Homo sapiens: one gene and its partners. The protein of the gene in region 2 purifies or fractionates together with the protein of the main gene of each other region. This does not show direct contact. Each region holds a gene or a part of one and is shown on either strand. Other genes may lie near its edges. The genes, in order: KAT14, SETD1B, EPB41L1, SYT1, KANSL3 and BTK.

What was found.
Region 1: the proteins of SETD1B (region 2) and KAT14 purify together in Homo sapiens (affinity purification with mass spectrometry, with the first as the bait; one large-scale study listed by BioGRID). This does not show direct contact.
Region 3: the proteins of SETD1B (region 2) and EPB41L1 purify together in Homo sapiens (co-immunoprecipitation; one large-scale study listed by IntAct). This does not show direct contact.
Region 4: the proteins of SETD1B (region 2) and SYT1 purify together in Homo sapiens (co-immunoprecipitation; one large-scale study listed by IntAct). This does not show direct contact.
Region 5: the proteins of SETD1B (region 2) and KANSL3 purify together in Homo sapiens (affinity purification with mass spectrometry, with the first as the bait; one large-scale study listed by BioGRID). This does not show direct contact.
Region 6: the proteins of SETD1B (region 2) and BTK purify together in Homo sapiens (co-immunoprecipitation; one large-scale study listed by IntAct). This does not show direct contact.

The regions. Positions count from the first base shown.
Region 1 is NC_000020.11:18,165,215-18,169,081, forward strand, and holds part of KAT14 (cysteine-rich protein 2-binding protein), read left to right. Parts: intron 1-3,867. UniProt on the Homo sapiens protein: Component of the ATAC complex, a complex with histone acetyltransferase activity on histones H3 and H4. May function as a scaffold for the ATAC complex to promote ATAC complex stability. Has also weak histone acetyltransferase activity toward histone H4.
Region 2 is NC_000012.12:121,820,775-121,824,641, forward strand, and holds part of SETD1B (histone-lysine N-methyltransferase SETD1B), read left to right. Parts: intron 1-1,715; coding exon 1,716-2,975; intron 2,976-3,867. UniProt on the Homo sapiens protein: Histone methyltransferase that catalyzes methyl group transfer from S-adenosyl-L-methionine to the epsilon-amino group of 'Lys-4' of histone H3 (H3K4) via a non-processive mechanism.
Region 3 is NC_000020.11:36,227,373-36,230,519, reverse strand, and holds part of EPB41L1 (band 4.1-like protein 1), read right to left. Parts: intron 1,189-3,147; coding exon 1,180-1,188; 3' UTR 1-1,179. UniProt on the Homo sapiens protein: May function to confer stability and plasticity to neuronal membrane via multiple interactions, including the spectrin-actin-based cytoskeleton, integral membrane channels and membrane-associated guanylate kinases.
Region 4 is NC_000012.12:79,280,420-79,284,286, reverse strand, and holds part of SYT1 (synaptotagmin-1), read right to left. Parts: intron 1-3,867. UniProt on the Homo sapiens protein: Calcium sensor that participates in triggering neurotransmitter release at the synapse. May have a regulatory role in the membrane interactions during trafficking of synaptic vesicles at the active zone of the synapse.
Region 5 is NC_000002.12:96,600,234-96,604,100, reverse strand, and holds part of KANSL3 (KAT8 regulatory NSL complex subunit 3), read left to right. Parts: intron 1-1,238; coding exon 1,239-1,348; intron 1,349-1,762; coding exon 1,763-1,985; intron 1,986-2,324; coding exon 2,325-2,458; intron 2,459-3,597; coding exon of another isoform or gene 3,598-3,627; exon of another isoform or gene 3,628-3,867. UniProt on the Homo sapiens protein: Non-catalytic component of the NSL histone acetyltransferase complex, a multiprotein complex that mediates histone H4 acetylation at 'Lys-5'- and 'Lys-8' (H4K5ac and H4K8ac) at transcription start sites and promotes transcription initiation.
Region 6 is NC_000023.11:101,372,665-101,376,531, reverse strand, and holds part of BTK (tyrosine-protein kinase BTK), read left to right. Parts: intron 1-1,217; coding exon of another isoform or gene 1,218-1,247; coding exon 1,248-1,388; intron 1,389-1,897; coding exon 1,898-1,996; intron 1,997-3,867. UniProt on the Homo sapiens protein: Non-receptor tyrosine kinase indispensable for B lymphocyte development, differentiation and signaling. Binding of antigen to the B-cell antigen receptor (BCR) triggers signaling that ultimately leads to B-cell activation.

The DNA of each region.
Region 1 (3,867 bases), on a different chromosome or scaffold from region 2:
TCGTTTAAAAAAATACTGAGTAGCAAGCATAAATCTAGCTGTGTAAGTAAATTGCCACTATTAGATGAAGTTTCCTGGAGAAGATAAGCTAAATAGTCATTCTGGGTCATTGTTGTGGACTGAATTGTGTCCCCCTTAAGCATATGTTGAAGTCCCAACCCTGGTACCTATGAATGCAGCCTTATCTGGAAATAGGCCCTTTGCAAATATAATTAGCCAAGACCACCAAGGATTGCCGGCAGCACCAGGAGCTAAGAGAAGGGCACAGAACAAATTCTCCCCTAGTGCGTACCCCAGAGAGCATAGCCCTGCCCACACTGTGACTTCTGACATTTGGCCTCTAGAACTGTGAGACAATAAATTCCTGTTGTTTTAAGCCACCCAGTTTGTGGTGCTTTGTTCCTACAGCCCTGGGAAACTAATACTTACAGTGATGTTCTGGCTTCGGCTTCCATGAACCCCTTCTGAGGTAGTCACTGGCCAAGGTCACTAGGGAGTCCTGGGAAACATGAGGCTCACCATAGCGTATGCATCAGCCAGGGCTGTGATGTATACCAGAGATGCGGCAGAAATCTGGGCAGAGGAAGTGGGATCCTCTGTATTTCCTGCCTGAGCTGACAGCTTCCTTCCAGCTTGCAGAAGGTCAAAGCAGTTATTTGTGGAGTGAGCATCATCAGCTGGTCTTTGGGGTGGGCATGGGTGGTGTACAGGAGGCTCACCTGTACATGGTGAAGACAAGCTGAGCGTAGATAAGATTCTGGGCCACGACGCCATAGGTTTAAAAGATGGTCAGTGGCAGCAAGGACTTAAGGATGATAGCCTCAATATGTGTTAGAAATACCAAAATTGTTAGAAATAGATAATCGGTGCTGCGAAGAAAAGTCAGCACAGAGACAAAAGGTATCTCAGCAAGGCCATCTTTTCTTTCTGTAGAAAGGGTGCTCAGTTGCAGATGGAACAAAGGTGAGAGCACACTTGAACACAGGAAAAGCAGACATATTTATCCCTTACGCACTTGGGTCGTCCTTACTGCTGTGTCCTGCATCCACTGGCTGGAGCGGGACCTCACAATCTTAAACTGATACCCGATTTGCTAATAGCCTAAAACTTTCCTAAATAGGTAAGTGCAGGGAAGAACAAAGAAGTTGCTTACAAAAGGTTTAAGGAAGCAATAACATTTCCAAATAAGGAAGGGGCGTAGACTGTGGGCTGGAACGTGCCTGTGAGCATGTCCAACGGTTACAGAGGATAGGGCTTAACAAAGAGTTATTAGCACAAGGCAAGGAGACTTGAAGAAAGTTAGTCTTTAAAAGAAACTGTTATTTCTAACACTTATGATTTATTCTTTAACAAGAAGGAAAACTTTGAAGAGGAAACTTTTTACTTTCTACACTATGTCTGCCCCTTGGGTCACACTTGTTCACCCTTTGTTGTGAAACTCAGCAGGGGTGTTGGGATCTCCCCTCTCTGGAGATTCTTTTGCCCTCCTCTGTATTTGATCTCCTGTTTCCTGTGGCCCATCTTTACCTTGTTATAGGTTTATTCCCTTGTTCTTAATGACTTCCTGAGAAAAGCTGCATGGGAAGTAAAATTTGAGACCAACATACTGAAAAGACCCTCATTAAGTGAGGTTGAACCTGGAATTCCATACACAGCCACATTGTCTAGGTGAGACCTCTGTTGAGGACCACTGCACTTCCTTTAGGTTTTTTCTTTGAATCTAGTCAGAGTCCCTGGGGAATAATCTTCTGGGCTCAGGATGCTGGTTGCCAAGTTGGGGAAGAGGGACCTTAGCATTCAGCTTGTCAGGTACTCACACCTCAGCCCTCCAGCTGGATCCCCTGTTAGTTCTCTAGAGATCAGACCTCCTGGCTTCTGGGGGAGGGCAGCCACCCAGCAACAGGGAGTGGAAGGATCTGGGGATCATACTGCTTTCCACATGGTGTTTGCCTGCTCCTTATTTTATTGTCCCATTTGGTCCCAGTTCCAGAGGAATCTGCTGGCTGCTGCCTGGATTTTAGCGGGTTCTGTAGTATAGATTGGGTTAGTTCTCATTTAGCTTACCCAAAGCCACTTTGGGATTTTGGTGTTAAATCAGTTACTATTTGTCCATCTGTTTACCAGTTACTGTTCTAATTAAGTCAGCTTCTATAGTTTTAGTGGGATTTTGGGAAGTAGTAAAGCTTTATATGCTTGTGTTTTAACCCAGTCTTAACTTGGAATTTTAGTATAAATTTTAATGTATTTACACAGGGAGTGGCTGTAAATGCATTTATTCAATCCATACTCTTGTTTTATATTTATTCTTTGAATGTATTCGTAGCTATAAGTTTCTCAATAAGTGCTGCTTTAGCTGTGATTCTTGACTTTTGAAATGATGTGATTTTATTTCCAATCAGTACTTGGCATTTTGTTATTTTTCTCATTATTTCCTCTTTAATCCAAAGGTTATTTAGTTGTTTTTTGGTTTTCAGATATATGAGAATTTTAAGCTATGTTTTGGTAATTGATGTGATTTCTAATGTTGTATTATGATCAGAGAAAATAGTTTATGTGATGTTCATTCTGTACCATAAAGAAAGTTATACATTCTATTTTTATTCTTTTTATAGGTCCTAACTTAAGATACATTTATTTTTCCTTATTCTTTTTTTAATATCATGTGGTTGTCCCCCCAAACAAAAAAGTACATTTTCATGCACTTATCTCTTTTTTTCTTTTGTATTGCTTATTTAAATGACATAAATCTTTACTAAATTATTCACTCGTCCTATTGTTTCTTTCTAGATTAATTTCTTGCTGGACTGCTTTCTCTAACAGTTCTTTAAAAATATGGGCTTTTTGAGGTTAATTTTGAAAACTTATACGACTAAGAATATCTTCATTTCACTTTTTCATTTAAATGATAGCAGTCATATAAAATTGTTATTTTAGTTTTTTCCATTGATATTTTGAAATTATGACTTCATTATCATCTTACATACAGTGTCACTCCTGAGAACCCCGGTACTGATAAGAAATAGAAATTTTTGACTGGGCTCAGTGGCTCATGCCTGTAATCCCAGCACTTTGGGAGGTCGAGGCAGGCAGATCACTTGAGGCCAGGAATTTGAGACCAGCCTGGACAATATGGTGAAACCCCGTCTCTACTAAAAATAAAAAAATTAGCCAGGCCTGGTGGCGCATGCCTATAATCCCAGCTGCTTGGGAGGCTGAGGCTTGAGAATCACTTGAACCAGAGAGGCAGAGGTTACAGTGAGCTGAGATCATGCCACTGCACTCCAGCGTGGGTGATTGGGTGAGACTCTCTCTCAAAAAAAAAAAATTTTTTTTGTTTCTTATCAATTAAGTGGCCTCCTTGTTTTATTCTCCCATCTCCTAAAACTTTCAGAATTTTCTCTTTGTTTTTTATCTTTAATTAGTGCATGTTAAGTGTCTTTTATTTTCTCTTTTTAAAGCTTTGTTTTCTTTTTTCTATTATTTTATTTTCCAGCACATCCAAAACACAGAAATTGTGTTTGTTCTCATTTGTCTTACTTGACAACTCTGTTCTTTTGGTCAGAGGTATTTTATATGCTTCTTGGCATTTATTCTGCTTGGTGTTCGCTGACCTTCCTGAATGTGTGGTTTGGTGTCTGACATTAAATTGGGGATATTCTCAGTCATTATTGCTTCAAATTTTTCTTCTATTCCTTTCTGTCTTCTGGTATTCCCATTGTGTGTTTATTACACCTTTTGTAGTTTTCCGCAGTTCTCGGATAGTCTGTTTTGTTCTTTTTTTTCATCTTTTTTGTCTTTGCTTTTCAGTTTTGGAAGTTTTTACTGACAGATCCTCAAGTTCAGAGATTCTTTACTCAGCCGTGTCCA
Region 2 (3,867 bases):
CACCCACCTCGGCCTCCCAAAGTGCTGGGATTACAGGCGTGAGCCACCATGCCCGGTCCTAGCACCTACCTTTAATAAGTCCTTCAGGAAAGGATTACAGCTGCCCCTGTACATTGAACACATGGCTAGGGCCCACGGACATGCAGTTTTCAACCAAATATGGACGGAAAAGACCGGTGGGATGCGAAACCCACTGTATATGGAGGGCGATCGCCTATACGTGGGTTCTGCAAGGCAGACTACAAGCTTTGAGTATGTGCAGATTTAGGTATACCAGGGAGTGTTAGAACCAATTCTCTGTGTGTATTGAGGGACGACTGTGTTTTGTTTAATGTAATGTATTTTGTTTTGTTTATTCCACCATTAACCACAGTCTTTGAACATTGACTCAATACTAAGCCTCTATTGTGTCCCTGCTATTATTTTAGGCAGTAGCAATGCAACAGTGGACCAAACAGACAAAAATATCTGCTCCCACGGAGCAGGGGAACAGATGACAACAGATCAATTAGAAAATGAAAAACAGGTGGCAGGCTCCTGTAATCCCAGCTACTTGGGAGGCTGAGGCAGGAGAATTGCTTGAACCCGGGTGGCAGAGGTTGCAGCGAGCCGAGATCGTGCCACACTGCACTCCAGCCTGGGCGATAGAGTGAGACTGTCTTAAAAAAAAAAAAAAAGAAAGAAAAAGAAATGTGCCGGGCGCGGTGGCTCACACCTGTAATCCCAGCACTGTGGGAAGCCGAGGTAGGCAGATCAACTGAGGTCAGGAGTTTGAGACCAGCCAGGCCAGCATGACGAAACCCCATCTCTACTAAAAGTACAAAAAATTAGCAGGGCGTGGTGGCACGTGCCTGTAATCCCAGCGGCTTGGGAGGCTGAGGAAGGAGAATTGCTTGAACCTGGGAGGAGGAGGTTGCAGTGAGCTGAGATTGTGCCATTGCACTCCAGCCTGGGTGACAGAGTGAGACTGTCTCGAAAAAATAAAAATAAAATAATGTAAAAATAGAAAATGAAAAAGATGTATTCTGTGGTCGGGCATGGTGGCTCACATCTGTAATTCCAGCACTTTGGGAGGCCAAGGCTGGCGGATCACTTGAGGCCAGGAGTTCAAGACCAGCCTAGGCAACATAGAGCCCATCTCTACAAAACATTTAAAGATTAGCTGGGCGTGGTGGCACATTCCTGTAGTCCCACCTACTCAGGAGCCTTAGGCAGGAGGATCCCTTGAGCCCTGGCGGTCTAGGCTGCAGTGACCGTGATCATGCCACTGCATTCCACCCGTCTCAAAAATAAAAAAATAAGTAAATTCATTAAAAAATTAAGAAGTGTATCCTGTGACAGTGGAGATAAGTGCTAGGAAAAAAATCCTTGAAGGCTCCGACAAGTCCTGCAGAAAAGAGACTTGTTGAATTTTATTCAGTCATAGAGCAGATTTTCTTGGGCCACAGGGACTTTGTTCTGAAGACGTAGTATGAAAGGCTGGAATACATGTCTCCTGCATCTGTGATTTAGCCTAGCAACATTGATAAAGCACATACTGTGTGCCTGACACTGGGTTGGGCGCTGAGGAGTCCTTGAGGGGTTTAGCTGGAGAAGGACAGGTCCCGTGCTCAGACTCAGGGCTGTGAGCCTGCCAGGTATGGAGCACAAAATAAGGCACTGAGAGACGTTTGGATTGAATAGTAAATGTCTCGTGTTCGCTCACCTCTCTGCAGAACATGACCTGGAAGTGGAGCCGGAGCCCCCTATGATGCTCCCCTTGCCGCTGCAACCACCATTGCCGCCCCCACGACCACCCCGGCCACCCAGCCCACCGCCGGAGCCTGAGACCACAGATGCCTCACACCCATCTGTCCCTCCGGAGCCCCTTGCCGAGGACCACCCCCCGCATACTCCAGGCCTCTGTGGCAGCCTGGCCAAGTCGCAGAGCACAGAGACGGTGCCAGCCACACCAGGCGGGGAGCCCCCGCTATCAGGGGGCAGCAGTGGCCTGTCCCTGAGCTCTCCGCAAGTGCCCGGCAGCCCCTTCTCCTACCCAGCCCCGTCCCCTAGCTTGAGCAGTGGGGGCCTCCCTCGGACACCTGGCCGGGACTTCAGCTTCACACCCACCTTCTCCGAGCCCAGCGGGCCCTTGCTCCTGCCCGTCTGCCCACTCCCCACTGGCCGACGCGATGAACGCTCCGGGCCCCTGGCCTCCCCGGTGCTCCTGGAGACGGGCCTGCCCCTCCCTCTGCCCCTTCCCCTGCCCTTGCCCTTGGCATTGCCCGCCGTCTTGCGGGCCCAGGCTCGTGCGCCCACCCCGCTGCCACCCCTGCTGCCCGCCCCCCTGGCCTCTTGCCCTCCCCCAATGAAGAGGAAGCCGGGCCGGCCCCGGCGATCCCCACCATCTATGCTCTCCTTGGATGGGCCCTTGGTCCGACCACCAGCAGGGGCCGCCCTTGGAAGGGAACTCCTGCTCCTGCCGGGCCAGCCACAGACCCCCGTCTTCCCCAGCACCCATGACCCCCGGACGGTGACCCTGGACTTCCGGAACGCGGGGATCCCAGCCCCTCCACCACCCCTTCCCCCCCAGCCACCCCCACCCCCACCTCCCCCACCTGTAGAGCCCACCAAGCTGCCCTTTAAGGAGCTAGACAACCAGTGGCCCTCCGAGGCCATTCCTCCGGGCCCCCGTGGGCGCGATGAGGTCACTGAGGAATACATGGAGTTGGCCAAGAGCCGGGGGCCGTGGCGCCGGCCACCTAAGAAGCGCCATGAGGACCTGGTGCCACCTGCGGGCTCGCCCGAACTCTCGCCACCCCAGCCCCTCTTCCGGCCCCGCTCGGAGTTTGAGGAGATGACCATCCTGTATGACATCTGGAACGGTGGCATCGATGAGGAGGACATCCGCTTCCTGTGTGTCACCTACGAGCGACTGCTACAGCAGGACAATGGCATGGACTGGCTTAACGACACGCTCTGGGTCTACCATCCCTATATCCTGCTGGCATGGGGGGCTCTGCACCTTCTGGGATGCAGGAAGTCCCTGCTCACCTCTCTGGGCCCCACCACCCAGTCTGTAGCAGCCCGCGGTGCCCATGAAGGTGACAGCATGCACCACCGTCACTTCCCAAGCAGGGTTTGTGTCCCGGCACCATGCCAGGCTCCCGAGTGAATCATTGGCACGTTTTAAGGACTCCCTCTGCGCCAGGCCCATCTCACCCCCAGAGTTAGCAGGTCTCAGGGTCACATGTAACAGCAGTGCCGTGCAGCTTAACAGCACACACGGGCGCAGGGCCTCCTTGTCCTGTCCCCTTCATAACCTCAGGTAATCCCGGTAGCCTGGTGAAGATGGGGGCTATGATTCCCATTTTACATATGAAGAAGCTAAGGCTCAGAGAGGTTCAGTGACCTGTCCAAAGACACAGCTACAGGTGGCAGAGTTGAGATTTGAACCCAGGCAAACCTGGCTCTAGAGTCCAGGCTCTTCACCACCAGGCTTTCATGAGGCTTGGCTGTTCACATAGGCCAGTGAGGCTAGACCTCTCATTATCCCTGCTGTATTAGACTGATTTGTGAGCACTCAGTTTGTGTCAAGAGCTCTGCTCAAGTGCCGGGCACCATGGCTCACAGCTGTAATCCCAGCACTATGGGAGGCTGAGGCGGACGGATCACTCGAGGCCAGAAGTTTGAGACCAGCCTGGCCAACATGGCAAAACCCCATTTCTACTAAAAATACAAAAATTAGCCGGGTGTGGTAGCACATGCCTATAATTCCAGCTACTCTGGAGGCTGAGGCAGGAGAATTGCTTGAACCCGGGAGGCACAGGTTGTAGTGAGCCAAGATCGCACCACTGCACTCCAGCCTGGGTGACAGAACAAGACTCT
Region 3 (3,147 bases), on a different chromosome or scaffold from region 2:
TCCCCACCAATCAACCAATTACAAACACCACACACAGTATTACTACACTGAACCCGTCAGCCCCTACTGTGAGCCAACCCACACCCAGAGTCCAGGTCTCCTTAGCTGGGCCAGTTCAGTGAGATCTAGGAACCTCAGGATACATCAATCACAGTCAGATAATTATAATTTTAGAATGTCAGCTTCATACTTACCAGCACTGTTTATTTTAATATTTTTTCCTGTTATATGTAATATACATAACTTCAAAGCACATCCGTACAAACCTCCTACAAGCTGCACCTTCATAATGAGAAACCATAAGCATACAATGTCTACTTCCCTTCCTGTGGCTTCGTTTTCTGTTCTTGCTTTCTTTTCTTTTTCTCATTTCAAAGGAGAGTCATCTGCAGTGGCCCTCAGAAGGACCAGGACACAGAGGGTGAAGGGTGTGGGGTGGGGGAAGGGGGAAGGGGGAGGAGGGAGCCGAGACAGAAAATGACAGCAAGACATTGAGAGTTGAGGGTGAGGGGAGGCGGGAGAGAGGAAGGTAGGTTTTGCAGCCCAGTGTCAAGATCCAGAAAGTAAGAATCCAGTGTTCCTCCTCTTTCTTTCCAAGTGGGGAATTTTCTTTTTTTCTCGGAAAATGGTTGACTGTGCGTGTCTTGCTGCTGTGACTTCTCTTGCTTTGCTGTGCAAGTGTTTTCCTTTGCATTCAAGTGGGCCTTAGAGATGCTGGAGAAGAACAAATGGAATTGCTCGTCTGCTAACTGTAACGTGCAGAACCAGGGCGGGAGGGACTTCTACAATCATCGTGGTCTGGCTTGCGTTTCTTATTTGGCGGGGGAAAGGGGTGAGCAAGGGATTATAGTTATTATATAATTTTTTTTCTTGAAAAAAATCCCACCAGTTCTTCAATTTGTCTGCAAAGGAAATGTAGGTGTTCAGATGTCGGTTGTTGCTGTCAGCCAACTGCTCTGCCAGCCCCAGCAGCAGTGCAAGGATGCGGTGTTTCCTGTATATATATCTATATCTCTATATATCTATATATATATGCTTTTCCCTTCCCAGTCTCTCATCAGTGACAGTACGTCGCAGCTGGGACGTCAGTGTTGCGTCGGAGAATCCAGAATGAAGGCCCCTTCTTAATGGTTCTCTGGCTTGGGTTGGACCAGAAATGCCAGGATCTCTTCACAGAGGTCAGGATTCCTGGAAGCCAGAGGCATGGGGTAGAATGGGGGGTGGGGAGTGGGGGGAAAGGAAGGAAGAGGACAAGAAAAATTAGTAACTTCTGTCACTTGTTTTAAAATACATGGCAAGAGGTTGTTTTTGCTACCCTTTACCATATGCCCTTTATTGTGACTCAGCAAGGTAGAGTGACTTGCACCTGTAATCCCAGCTACTTGGGAGGCTGAGGTGGAAGGATCTCTTGAGGTGAGAAACTCAAGGCTGTAATGTGTAATCATCATGCCTGTGAGTAGCTATTGCACTCCAAGGCCACGCAGCTTGTGTGTGGCAGCAGAGAACCGAACCCACATCTGTTGGATTCCAGAGCCCATGTGTGTTTGCTCGCTTGTTTCCAGGGAGGTGGTAATCTTTTACTTTGGCCTGACAATGTGTTAAAATGTCCTTTAACACCGAGAAGCTAAGATCATCATCATTTTACTTTTTCTTCCTATCTTGTCAGCTCTAAGAAATGTTTAGTCACGATTGCAGATGTTCTTTTTTCATTTGGTTTTCCTTTCTGTTGTCCGTGGGCTTGCTGTGTCCTGGAGATTAAACCACAGACAGCAGTGTTTAAATAAAGAAATGAAGTCTGGATTCCAGGTTTGGCTCCAAAACTCAGTGTTTAAAGGAGCAGGCTCTGAAATCAGACTCCCTGAGTTCAAATCCCACTCTATGGGCCTGCTAGCTCTGTAATCTTGGGTGAGTTTCTTAACTTCCTTTACTTTAAACAGTTTTTAACAGACGAGTCTTACTATGTTGCTCAGGCTGGAGTGCAATAGCTATTCACAGGCACAATCAATGCACATTACAGCCTTGAATTCCTGGCTGCAAGTGATCCTTCTGCCTCAGCCTCCCAAGTAGCTGGGATTACAGGTGCACGCCACAGTGCCTGGCAAGTTTCTTAACTTCTTTAAGCCTCAATTGCTTCCTCCGTAAAATAGGTTCTGCCTCCCATTATAGGGAGGAACTGAAGCAAGGGCCCAGCATATAGTAAGTGCTGAATAAATACTGGCTGTTCTTATTATGATGATTGTTGCTGTTGTTAATTTAACCACACACTACTCTGATCTCCTTGAGGGTAAGGGCTATCTTTTAACTCTTGTCTTTCCAGTGTTCAACACTGTGCCTGGCACATAGCAACTACTCAAAACCATTTAATGGATGAAACATCATTTCTGCTACTTGCATGCAGTCGAGTGCTAACGGAATCACAGAAAATGGATCTTTCTTGGCTCATTTGACACATAGGAAAACCGAGGCCCAGAGGCTTCAGGCTTAGTAAGTTGGCAAAACCAAGACTAAAACCCAAGGTTCCTGTTTTGGAACAGGTCAATTTTTTCCCATTAAATTTTGGAAGGTTAGGAAGCTAGGCAAGTGCTGCCCTCTTGCTGGTGGTGTTTGGGAGACAGGTCCTCTCTGAAGGAGGTGGGCCAGTGGGAGAAGATGGAGCAGAAACCAGACGTCTGACCTGCAAGGTTGCAGGGAGAGAAGGGAAAAGGTTCTGTGTGACATGAGTGACTTTCCACGCTCATAGCAAGAACTTCAAGAAGGAAGAACTTTAAGAAGGAAGACAGAGTTAACTGAAGCAGGGACAGATGTTTCTGGAGGATTTGCAGAAGGAACAGAAGATGAAGACCAGTAAGACAAACACCCTCATGGAGACAGGGCCTCAGGCACCAGGCTGGTGGTGGAGAATTACGATCTGACTTTCTCAGTACTCTCATCAACCTCTAAACATGGAAAAACCTCAGAGGGACAAGGAAGCAGGTTCACCTTGCTGAGCCCCTTCTGTAGGCAAGACACAGATCCAGTATATCACAGGTGTTGTTTAGTTATTACAGCAACTCCAATGTATACATTAATGACATTTTGCAGATGAGGAAACTGAGGTCAGAGAGGTTCCTCTGGGCACACAGCTACCAAGGTGTTTCTAGCTCCAAA
Region 4 (3,867 bases), about 43 Mb from region 2:
TGTCTCTCTGATAAAAGTTAATATATTTTCTTATTTGGTATGCCTTACACCATGTGCTTATAAAAAATAAGGTGACATGGAAACATTTATGATTTCAGTTAGATTGGAAGGGAAGTATTCATAATCCAAATCACAGCTATTGAGATTAATCAGAAGTAATTAGATTTGTCTGTTGTAATAAAAAAAAAAGATACTGGGCACTGAAATGATAAGAAAAAGCCAAATAAACATTACTAGAACCAATGATTGCTGAACACCAGTCAGGAATACTTTGATAAAGTAAAAACACTTAAAAATTAACCTCTCTTCAAAATTGAGAAAATCTACTCTCTTTGCTTTTCCTCTGCATTTAGTATCATTGTGCAGAATACTTACTATGCATAATATTCTGGCTTATGACTGGATACTAGATGTTAACCTAAGGACATAAAACTACAACTTTTGAAATTGTGTTTTCTACCAAAGAAATACTTATGTGACAGTTACAGATAAACCCACACCTAAAGAAGTTTTCTTCCAGTTCTCTAAATTTATTAAACAAGGTAAAGATTACATAAAAAGTAAATTATTTTATGTAACCAATGATATCATTCATAATACTTCATTTAAAAGCATCTATCTCCATTGATTTAGTTAAAATCCTGTCATGCATGAACAAGAGAGTGTATGTATTCATTGCGGGAAAGACAGCATTCATAATGACCCTTCATTTTGAACCTCATAAATTATTCTCCCAGTTGGACTTGTGTGGTGATAGTCGCTCAGAGAGCTACATAAAAGTCTCTTAAATTGTACAAGACAAGACAAAGATGATTTGACAAGTTCACAAAAAGAAAATAGTGAAAGCAAAGGAACATCATTTAATCAAAGGGAGTTAAAGAGCTAGGAACATGAGATTACAGGAAGAAATTTGAAATAATGCAACTTGAAAGTAATTTATAACCACTGAAAAACTTTTGTTTTATGACTTTTATTTCTTAAAGCACTGCTGTCTTTTAGATTTGCCTTCAGTTGATCTTCTGAATAACTTTAAGTTGGAATATGCTGTATTAAATATAATGAAATTAACAGAATTTTCTTCACAATGTATTGGCACCTTTAGATAGACAAAATAAAAAATGCTTAACGTTATCATTTTGTATAGCTATAGGATAGCTTCACTCATTAGTCATATATCATGTAAAGAAACAGCCATTTTTAGTAAATAGAGTTACTTGGATGCTCATGTTAAAATTTTATTTAATTGTGTAGAGTAACCAAATATTTAAAATTTGGCAAGTTTACTAAGAAACAACACCCACAGTATTATTCATCTGCAGTATTTGTAGAAACATGTTTCAATATTGGTCAGCAAATCTTGTGGAATATATTTTGGATCAGGCTAAAAGTTTATTGAAGACCTACCTACCTGTTATGGCCCAGCAATTTGGCTACAGTTATAGATACATTATCTTATTTATTCTTTGCAGCAGTTTTGTTCAGTATCACTGCAGTTTTACAGAGGAAAAACTATAGGTTGAATAGTTTGAGAAATTCAAATTTATCTTTAGGTCGTTAGGTTAAAAATGTGAATATTAAAAATGTATACGGAGAAAAAATTTGTATCTAGCTTTAAAGTCTCTTTAATAGAACATATTAAATTAAATAATTCAGTGAAGCAAATAACAGCATAAAATGCAGTGATTTTTTAAATACAAAATAAGAGTTTCAGTCAAAAATAGTCTCATCAAAATACTGCTACAGGCAGAAAACTATCAGTTTATTGTTATTGCTACCCAACTACCATTACATGGAAGTTTATAATAACAATTTTAACATTCAACTTAAAGGCCTTTCAGCAGAAAATAATTGACTAGTATAAAAACTCTATTAAAAATTTTATTTTCATTTTCTAGTTAATGAATCAATCTCACATATATTATCTGACCCAAAGGTAAATTGATACATAATAATTAAGTACAAGGCAAATTAATTTAAAACTGCTTCTGATGTTTTAATTAATACCTTGTGGTAGACATGATAATGGCCCCTCCAAGATGACCACATCCTATTTTCTGGAAGCTGTGAATACCTTACCCTGCCTGGTAAGAGGGACTTTGCAAGTGTGATTAGATTAAGGATCTTGAGATGGGGAAATTATCCTGAATTATCTGAGTGTAGACTCAATGCAATTACCAGAGTTTTTATAAGTGAAAGAGGCAGGCAGAAATGTCAGAGTCCAAGAGAGAGAGGGAGATTTGAAGAGTCTCTGTTGCTGGTTTTGTAGATAAAGAAAGGGACCATGAGCCAAGGAATGCAGGTGCCTCTTGAAGCTGGAAAAGGCAGGGAAATGGATTCTCCCCTACACCTTCAAGAGAGAATTGGCCCTGCTGACGCCTTGATTTCAGCTCAGTGAAACCAATTTCAGATTTCTGACCTCCAGAATGGGAAAATAATAAATGTGTGTGGCTTTTATGACAGTAAACTTGGAATAATTCATTATAGCAACAATAGGAACTCAAGTGATACAAAGAAGACCTCAAGAGATTTGTAATATATGCTGTATATAGGTAACTATACATTAGTAATATTCATGTGGGCTAGTCATGTATTTTCTGCTGTCTTTTCATTTATTTATTTATTTTAGTAGCTCTAGGGGTTTGGTTAAATGGATGAATTGTATAGTAGTAACGTCTGGGCTTTTAGTGTACCCATCACCTGAATGGTGTACATTGTATCCAATAGGTAATATTTAATCTCTCATCCCCTTCCCACTTTTGAGTCTCCAGTGTTCATTATACCATTCTATATGCCCATGCATACCCATAGCTTAGCTTTCACTTATAAGTGAGAATATGCAGTTTTTGGTTTTCTGTTTCTGAGTTACTTCACTTAGGATAATAGCCTCCAATTCTAACCAAGTTGCTGCAAAAAGACATTATTTTGTTCTTTTATTATAACTGAGTAGTATTCCATGATCTATCTATCTATATCTATCTATATCTCTATATCCGTATCTGACATTTTCTTTATCCACTCATCCATTGATGAGCACTTAGGTTGATTCCATACCTCTGCGTTTGTGAATTGTGCTGCAATAAACATATAAGTGCAGGTGTCTTTTTGATATAATGGCTTCTTTTTCTTTGGGTAGATATCCATTAGTGGGATTGCTGGATCAAATGGTAGAACTGTTTTTAGTTCTTTGAGAACTCTCCATACTGTTCTGCATAGAAGTTGTACTAATTTACCTAATACATCAACAGTGAGTAAGAGTTCCATTTTCACAGCATCCATGCCAGTATCTATTTTTTTTTTTTTTACTTTTTATTAATGGCCATTCTGACTGTAAGGTGGTATCTCATTTTGGTTTTAATTTTTATTTCTCTGATGATTAGTGATGTGGAGCATTTTTTTCATATGTTTGTTGGCCACTTGTATGGCTTCTTTTGAAAAATCTCTCTTCACATATTCCCACTTTTTATGGGATTATTATCTTTTTTTCTTGCTGATTTGAGGTCCCTGTGGATCTTGGATATTAGCCGTTTGTTGGATGTATAGTTTGTGAATATTTTCTCCCATTCTATAGGTTGTCTATTTACTCTGTTGATTATTTATTTAGCTGTACAGAAGTTTTTTAATTTAAGTCCTATTTATTTATTTTTGTTTTTATTACATTTGCTTTTGGGGTCTTGGTCATAAATCTTTTACCTACACCAATGTTGAGAAGAGTTTTTTTCCCTAGGTTTTCTTTTAGAATCTTTATGGTTTTGGGTCTTACATTTAAGTCTTTAATCCAAGTTGTGTTAATTTTTTTTGTATATGGTCAGAGATAGGGATCCAGTTTCATTCTTCTGTATTTGGCTATCCAATTTTCCCAGCACCATT
Region 5 (3,867 bases), on a different chromosome or scaffold from region 2:
ATTAGCTTGGGCAGAGGGATTCCTTGGCCTTGAATAAATGCAGTGAGTAAATGTCCTGGTCTGCAAGTGAGTAAATGTTCCAGTCTACAGGTGCTGTATCCTCTACTGTAAGGAGAAATAGCCGATAGGACATATATGTATAGTCAGCCTTTCTTATCCACAGGAGATTGGTTCTAGGACCCTCACCACTACCAAAATCCATGGATGCTCAAGTCCCTTATATGAAATTATGTCATACCGTTGGAATTCTATATCCACAGGTTTCTATCCGTGGTTGTTTGAATCTGCAAATCTGCTGTGAAGCTCACAGATAATTGAGAGCTGACTGTGGTTTTACTTTGCTGTTTTAAGCACATCTGCCTGAATAAAACTGGAAATGGTGCTACACTGGGCATTAGCAAAATGAGACATTTTTCTGTCTGTGCTTGTCTCTCTCTTTGTCCTACCCACTAACCCTACTTTGAAAGGCCTGTTGCCTGAGCCCAGCAGGGCCAAGGCATTGCAGAAACCCTCTCCTGGCCAGGCATGGTGACTCACACCTGTAATCCCAACACTTTGGGAGGCCGAGGTGGGTGGATCACCTGAGGTCAGGAGTTTGAGACCAGCCTGGCCAATATGGTGAAACCCCGTTTCTACTAAAAATACAAAAAATTAGCCGGGTGTGGTGGTGGGCACCTGTAATCCCAGCTGCTTGGTAGGCTGAGGCAGGAGAATCGCTTGAACCCAGGAGGTGGAGGTTGCAGTGAGCTGAGATTGTGCCATTGCGCTCCAGCCTGGGCAACGAGAGCGAAACTCCGTCTCAAAAAAAAATAAAATAAAATAAACCCTTTTCCTTTAAGAGAACCTTTCTTATTGCTTTGAGGCTACTTCCTTACTGCTTTGATTGTGTGAGGCGAAGTGAAAGTTGGATATTTATAATTCTTTTGGCTTAAAAAGTTCTTCCCTGGAAAGAAAGGAACAAACTTGGATTTCTCAAAATGGTCTAAAATGTATGACTGATGGTTTGCAGCAGGTGCAGAGCAAGTCCGGGGCAGTGTCTGGCACAGTACCTTTCCTGTGTGGCATCCATTGCGTGTGTGCCTAGTTGGGGAGAGCTTCCTGCCTTCTCTCTGAGGACGGGTGTCCAAGGGCAAGCACCACTGGTGTTTTAGTTGGTGGTGAGGGTGGATGGATGTGGCTGCTCTCGGGATAGTGCAAGTGATTGAGTCTCTACTGATTCCTGCTATGTCCTCTCTTAGGGGCCACATCAGCCAGCAGCCTCCTCCAAGGCCTCAGCTTCAGCTTGCAGGATATCAGCAGCAAGACCTCTGGCCTTCCAGCAAATCCCTCCCCAGGACCAGCCCCACAGGTGCACATCTGCCATCTGCTGGGCTGGGCAGGTGTAGGGAGGAGGCCTCCTCAGCTTAGTTGGTTTTGGCAGGGAAACTAGGTCTGGAGTCAGTGGATCAAGGACAAACAGCCTTCTAGCTACATAGCAGGGAACTTACAAAAGTTAAGGTCTATCATTTACTGTGTGACCTTGGGCAAGTTTCTTGACCACTCTGTTTTTGTTTCTTTGTCTATAAAATGAGGTAATAATAGTACCTCCCTCATAGAGTTGTTATAAGAATGAAATAATATATGCAAAATGCCTGGAAGAGTACCTTGCATGTAGTAGGCACTCAATACATGTTAGCCTTTAATAATATGCTGTGGGCCCTCCAAGCTCGAATGTTGCTGTTGGGCGACAGCTTCTGATCACCTGGGCTTGTGTGTCCCACAGGCCACCAGTGTGAAGTTGCCCACCCCCATGCAGAGCCTGGGTGCCATCACCACGGGCACCAGCACCATTGTCCGTACCATTCCTGTGGCCACCACTCTCTCCTCCTTGGGTGCCACTCCTGGTGGGAAGCCCACAGCCATCCACCAGCTGCTGACCAATGGGGGCCTCGCTAAGTTGGCAAGCAGCCTCCCTGGCCTGGCTCAGATCTCTAACCAAGCATCAGGTGAGTCTCTCATGAGAACTGTGGGGACTCCCAGATCTGGGATCTTTCCCCCAGGACCTTCCCATCTCATGTGGGCAAGGTATGATGTTGAAACCAGTCCCACAGGGTCCTGGCATTGACCTTTGGATTCAGCTGTGTGGACCCATCCCCCAGAGAGGTTGAGAGAACACAGGCTGTTTCCTGTTGCCTTTCAGATTGACTGATAGGGCATAGATGACCCAGCTGGGGAGGAGGCCAAGGGACTGTGTTATGTGGGGGAGAAGCTCTCCAGGAAAGGAAAGCCTCAGTAGAAGGTGGAGAGTGTGACTCAAAAATTCTGCTTCTCTCTCTTTATCTCAGGCTTGAAGGTCCCCACCACCATTACTCTGACACTTCGTGGCCAGCCGAGCAGGATCACTACACTGAGCCCTATGGGCTCAGGAGCAGCCCCATCCGAGGAGTCCTCTTCCCAGGTGCTGCCCTCCAGCTCACAGGTGAGTCTGCCAGGAAGGACTGAGGACATGGGCTTCATTATTGGGAAGTTTAAGACCAGCTGACTGGCTGATTGAAGGGGCTGCCCATGCACTGGACAGACGAGATTCAGATTCAAATTCAAATCTGTATTCTGGAGTTTGTGGCTTTATAATATTGAGCGAATCATGGACATCTTTGAGCTTCCTCTTCTACATCCCTCCCTTGATATTGTGAAGAGTACATATGTTCAAGTGGGTAGCAGTGTCTAGTATTTAATGTTTTTGTTTACTTTTCCTTTCGTTTCATTTTTTTCTCATCCTTGGTTTCATCCTTCAGAGGTTATGAGTAGAGGCTACTTGGCTAATGCTCTTTCTTTGTTTTTATTTTTATTTTTTGAGATGGAGTCTTGCTCTATCGCCCAAGCTGGAGTGCAGGGGTGTGATCTCGGCTCCCTGCAACCTCCACCTCCCCGGTTCAAGCAATTCTCCTGCCTCAGCCTCCCAAGTAACTGGGATTACAGGCGCCCGCCACCATGCCCGGCTACAACAGGGTTTCACTGTGTTGACCAGGCTGGCCTCGTACTCCTGACCTCAAGTGATCTACTTGTCTCGGCCTCTGAAAGTGCTGGGATTACAGGTGTGAGCCACCGCTCCTGGCCCTTTCTTTGTTTTTAAGGACATGGAGACAGAGATATCTCACTATGTTGCCCAAGCTGGCCTTGAACTCCAAGGTTTAAGTGGTCCTCCCGCCTCGGCCCCCAAGTATAATACTCTTTCTTTGACATTGGCTTTCTAGCACTGTGCCTTCCCATATCTTAGCATTTATTGCTGTCTTTTTAGGGCACAGCTAGGTTTTTATAGGTCTCACCCAGGAAGTCATGATTAGTTTCTCTTAGCTGATCTAATTTCCCCTGTGACCTTTTCAAGTCAAATATTTCTAATCTTAAAATGGTAATCTGAGGAGCCACTCAAAGATTAGAAGTTAAGCCAAAAAACAGTTTGAGTCTAGTACTGAGTGTGCTTTCCTTCAGTATCCGCTATACAGCCAAGGCCTTCCTGTGTCTCCCTGTCCTTTCCACCATGTCAACCTGCTTGTGAACTGGAGGTGCAGTGATAGTTCCTGAGCCATTCTAAAAGCTCTTCTGTCTCTTCCTCTTTAGGGAAAATACTGCACAGAGGTCAACACCTGACATTCGTTGGGATCATAGCTACCTTTTTTTGCAGAGGGATGGAAATGTTTTAATTTTATCTTATTTCTTATTTTTTCAATTATAAAAATGATTATGCTTATTTTAAATAATTCAAACATTATAGAAATAATTAATTTAGAAAGGGAAAGTTTCCCATGATGCTACTCCTAGAGATGATGTTCACTGTTAATAGCCTGATATGGATCCATTCAAATTTTTTTTTCTACACAAAGTATGTTA
Region 6 (3,867 bases), on a different chromosome or scaffold from region 2:
CCTCAGCCTCCCGAGTAGCTGGGATTACAGGCATCCACCACTACGCCCGGCTATTTTTGTATTTTTAGTAGAGACGGGGTTTTGCCATGTTGGCCAGGTTGGTCTTGAACTGTTGACCTCAGGTGATCCGCCAGCCTCGGCCTCCCAAAGTGCTGGGATTACAGATGTGAGCCACCGCGCCGGCCTAGTGTTCTATTTTTATGACAGCATTTGTTTTCACTTTATCTTTCCAATGAAAGTTCGGAATTAGTAATAATATTACACTGTGCATAAACTGTAAGTGAATAACTGATATGAAGTGTTGCTTGGTGTGAATAAAAAAGCCAGTGGTGACTTTGGGAACTTTATTTGTCTTTCTGTGTTTCAGTTACCTAAATTGAATCCTTCTGGAGTATTGTAGGTTTGGGGAGGCTAAATAAGTTGTGTTTCATAAATGAACAGAGGTGGCATCTATATCAGTAAGACAGTTGCATCACTTTTGCATGATGCTGTCTAAAAGAACTAATTTAAGCTAAATGGGGAAAAGGTCAGAAAACAACAACTACCCCCCCCCCACCAAAACCCACCAAAAAAAATTATGTTTTCAACTTTAGAACAAATCTTCTATCCTTTGTAGCTCAGTCAGTGGGTGTGGGCAAAATCAGTTGGGCAGCAGTTAGTGTGTGTCCAGAACTGCAGGTGCAGCCTCCATATCCTTATTAGTTCCCTTGGTTACAGACCCCAGTGGGACAATGTTTGAAAAATTATATTCACCGTCTAGGAAATTGGGAACTGAAAGTCCAATATCTGCCTCAGTGGAGTTCTGGCACCTGCATTATCCCTTCTGGGTATATCAAGATCAACAGCTGCACAGATACTTTTGCTTTTCACAGATTCTACACATATCATATAAAGGTGAATAGTGTAAAGCTACCTCTACACCTTACCAAGCACACAGGTGCGTGCCATTTAACATCTAGAGCATTCCATTGCCTTATACAAGAACTCAGTTTATATGAGCTCACAACATCGAACCAATCCCCCCCCAATTCAGTGTGCATCCATTATACCTGAAACCTGACAGAGCTGGGGGCTGTGGGAGGAGGTTGGTAGGAAGAAATTATTTTGTGAGCTGTGCACATTTTTGTTCCATTTGAAACTAGGTAGCTAGGCTGAGGGGGAACCAAGAGGGATGAGGATTAATGTCCTGGGTCCTCAGGAACTTTCATTATCAACAGCACACAGGTGAACTCCAGAAAGAAGAAGCTATGGCCGCAGTGATTCTGGAGAGCATCTTTCTGAAGCGATCCCAACAGAAAAAGAAAACATCACCTCTAAACTTCAAGAAGCGCCTGTTTCTCTTGACCGTGCACAAACTCTCCTACTATGAGTATGACTTTGAACGTGGGGTAAGTTTCTCGACTATGAAAACTGAGTTTCAAGATATCAAGGACTTGGCCTTAGATCTTTCTTGGGGAAGAGGTAAATTTTCGTTGGTAGGAGGAGGGGAGTAGAATGGACCTAAGTTCTTTCAAATTCAGCAAAATATTTCCTAGCCTATAACTAGCTAAAGCCGGAAAGTCAAAGGTCCTAAGAAGCCACAAGGAAAATATTACCATGGAATCTTGGAATTGATGAGCACTCATTAAATGATTGTTGAAAATGAAATCGAAGAGTTGGAAATTGCTTCCTTACTTCCTATGAGGAAGGTACATACAGTCATTCACTCTTCCATGGTATTTGCCCTCCATTTGGTAGTCATAGATTTATAGATCTGGAAGGATTTTTTTTTCTTCCCCCACATGACAGGTCCTGGTGCCACCTCACTTTGTTGAATGATTAGATAACAAAATCTAATCATCTGGTTGCTTAATCCCTCTTAATCTTTCTCCATTTTCTTCCTCATTCTACTTCTCAGAGAAGAGGCAGTAAGAAGGGTTCAATAGATGTTGAGAAGATCACTTGTGTTGAAACAGTGGTTCCTGAAAAAAATCCTCCTCCAGAAAGACAGATTCCGGTAAGAAGAGACCAATGTCTGAGATGGGGAACAGCAGATTTGAAGAAATTTGCAACATTTAAATTCTCTGTAAATAGACTGGTGATGCTGTGCAACGTGGAACACGGTCAAGTTTCCTTTAAAAATTCTTCACTCTACCATATTGGTTATAAAGAATCTTAGCTTCTTTCCTTCATATTCAGAACATCTCACTAAACATGGAAAATTTGTTAACACAAACTTTTAAATGATGCTATATCTAGTTTTCAAACTGGTCAGAGATCATTGATTTTATTCCCTCAGTTCTCTCAGGATCAGATTTAGAGGCTTAAGTAAGTCTGAATGTCATAATCCTAGGGCTCTGAGTCACATGATATCCTTTAATACCTTACTATTTATTCTCTTCTCACTTTCCGGAGCGAGAGACATAAAACCTACTGATTTTTGAGTTCACTTTTAAAAAATATATATCAATTTCAGTATTTTCTTTTTTTCTTTTTTTTTTCTTTTTTTAGACAGAGTCTCGCTCTGTTGCCCAGGCTGGAATGCACTGGTGCCATCTTGGCTCACTGCAACCTTCACCTCCCGGGTTCAAGCAATTCTCATGCCTCAGCCTCCCAAGTAGCTGGGATTACAGGTGTGCACCACCATGCCTGGCTAATTTTTCGTATTTTTTTAGTAGAGACGGGGTTTCACCATGTTGGCCAGGCTGGTCTTGAACTCCTGGCCTCAAGTGATCCGCCTGTCTCGGCCTCCCAAAGTGCAAAGATTACAGGCGTGAGCCACCCACTGGGTCTGACCATTTTCAGTATTTTCTTGATCACAGGAGAATTGCGTATTTATTACAGAAACTCTGGAATATATAAAAAATACAAAAAGATTAAAATGATGCATAATCCTGTTACCCAGTTAAAACAACTATCAACATATTGGTGTACATAGACTTACAGATGTTTTTCTTCACTGAGAACACATACGCATACACTTATATATATGTCATATATTTAAAACATAGACTCATAGTACACATCTTGCTTTGTAACGTACTTTTTCAATGTAACGATATGTGGGAAACTTTTCCCCATGACAATAGATATTCTTTAATAACATGATTTTAATGACTGTATGGTATTCCCTATTATGGATGTATTGTAATTTGTTTAATCTCCCATTATTACACATTCGGTTTGTCTACAAGTACTTGATAGTATAAACCATGTTGAGAGGAACAATCTTGCATACATCTTTCTGTACTTTTTTTATTCTTTTCCTTATGATAATTTCCTAGAAGTAAAATTTTGTTCTTCTCTTTAAGAAAATCTGTGCACTTTGGTTATTTTTATCTTTTTATTTCATTTTCTAGAAGTGGAATTGAATTTCATACACACCTACAAGCTATGTATGAGAGTGCCTGTTTCTGTACATTTTTTCCAACACTAGATATTTTGTTATTTTTATTATTATTATTATTTTCTGAGATGGAGTCTCGCTGTGTCGCCCAGGCTGGAGTGCAGTGGTGCGATCTCCGCTCACTGTAACCTCTGCCTCCGGTTCAAGTGATTCTCCTGCCCCAGCCTCCTGAGTAGCTGGGACTACAGGCGCCCACCACCACACCCTGCTAATTTTTGTATTTTTAGTAGAGATGGGGTTTCACCAGATTGGTCAGGCTGATCTCAAACTCCTGACCTCAAGTGATCCTCCCACCTCGGCCTCCCAAAGTGCTGGGATTACAGGCGTGAGCCACTGTGCCCAGCCCAACACTAGATATTTTAAATATTAGTTAATTTGACAGCCAAGAAAAATAGCATTTCAGGTGGGGCGTGGTGGCTCACGCCTGTAATCCCAGCACTTTGGGAGGCCAAGGCAGGCGGATCATGAGCAGGAGTTCGAGA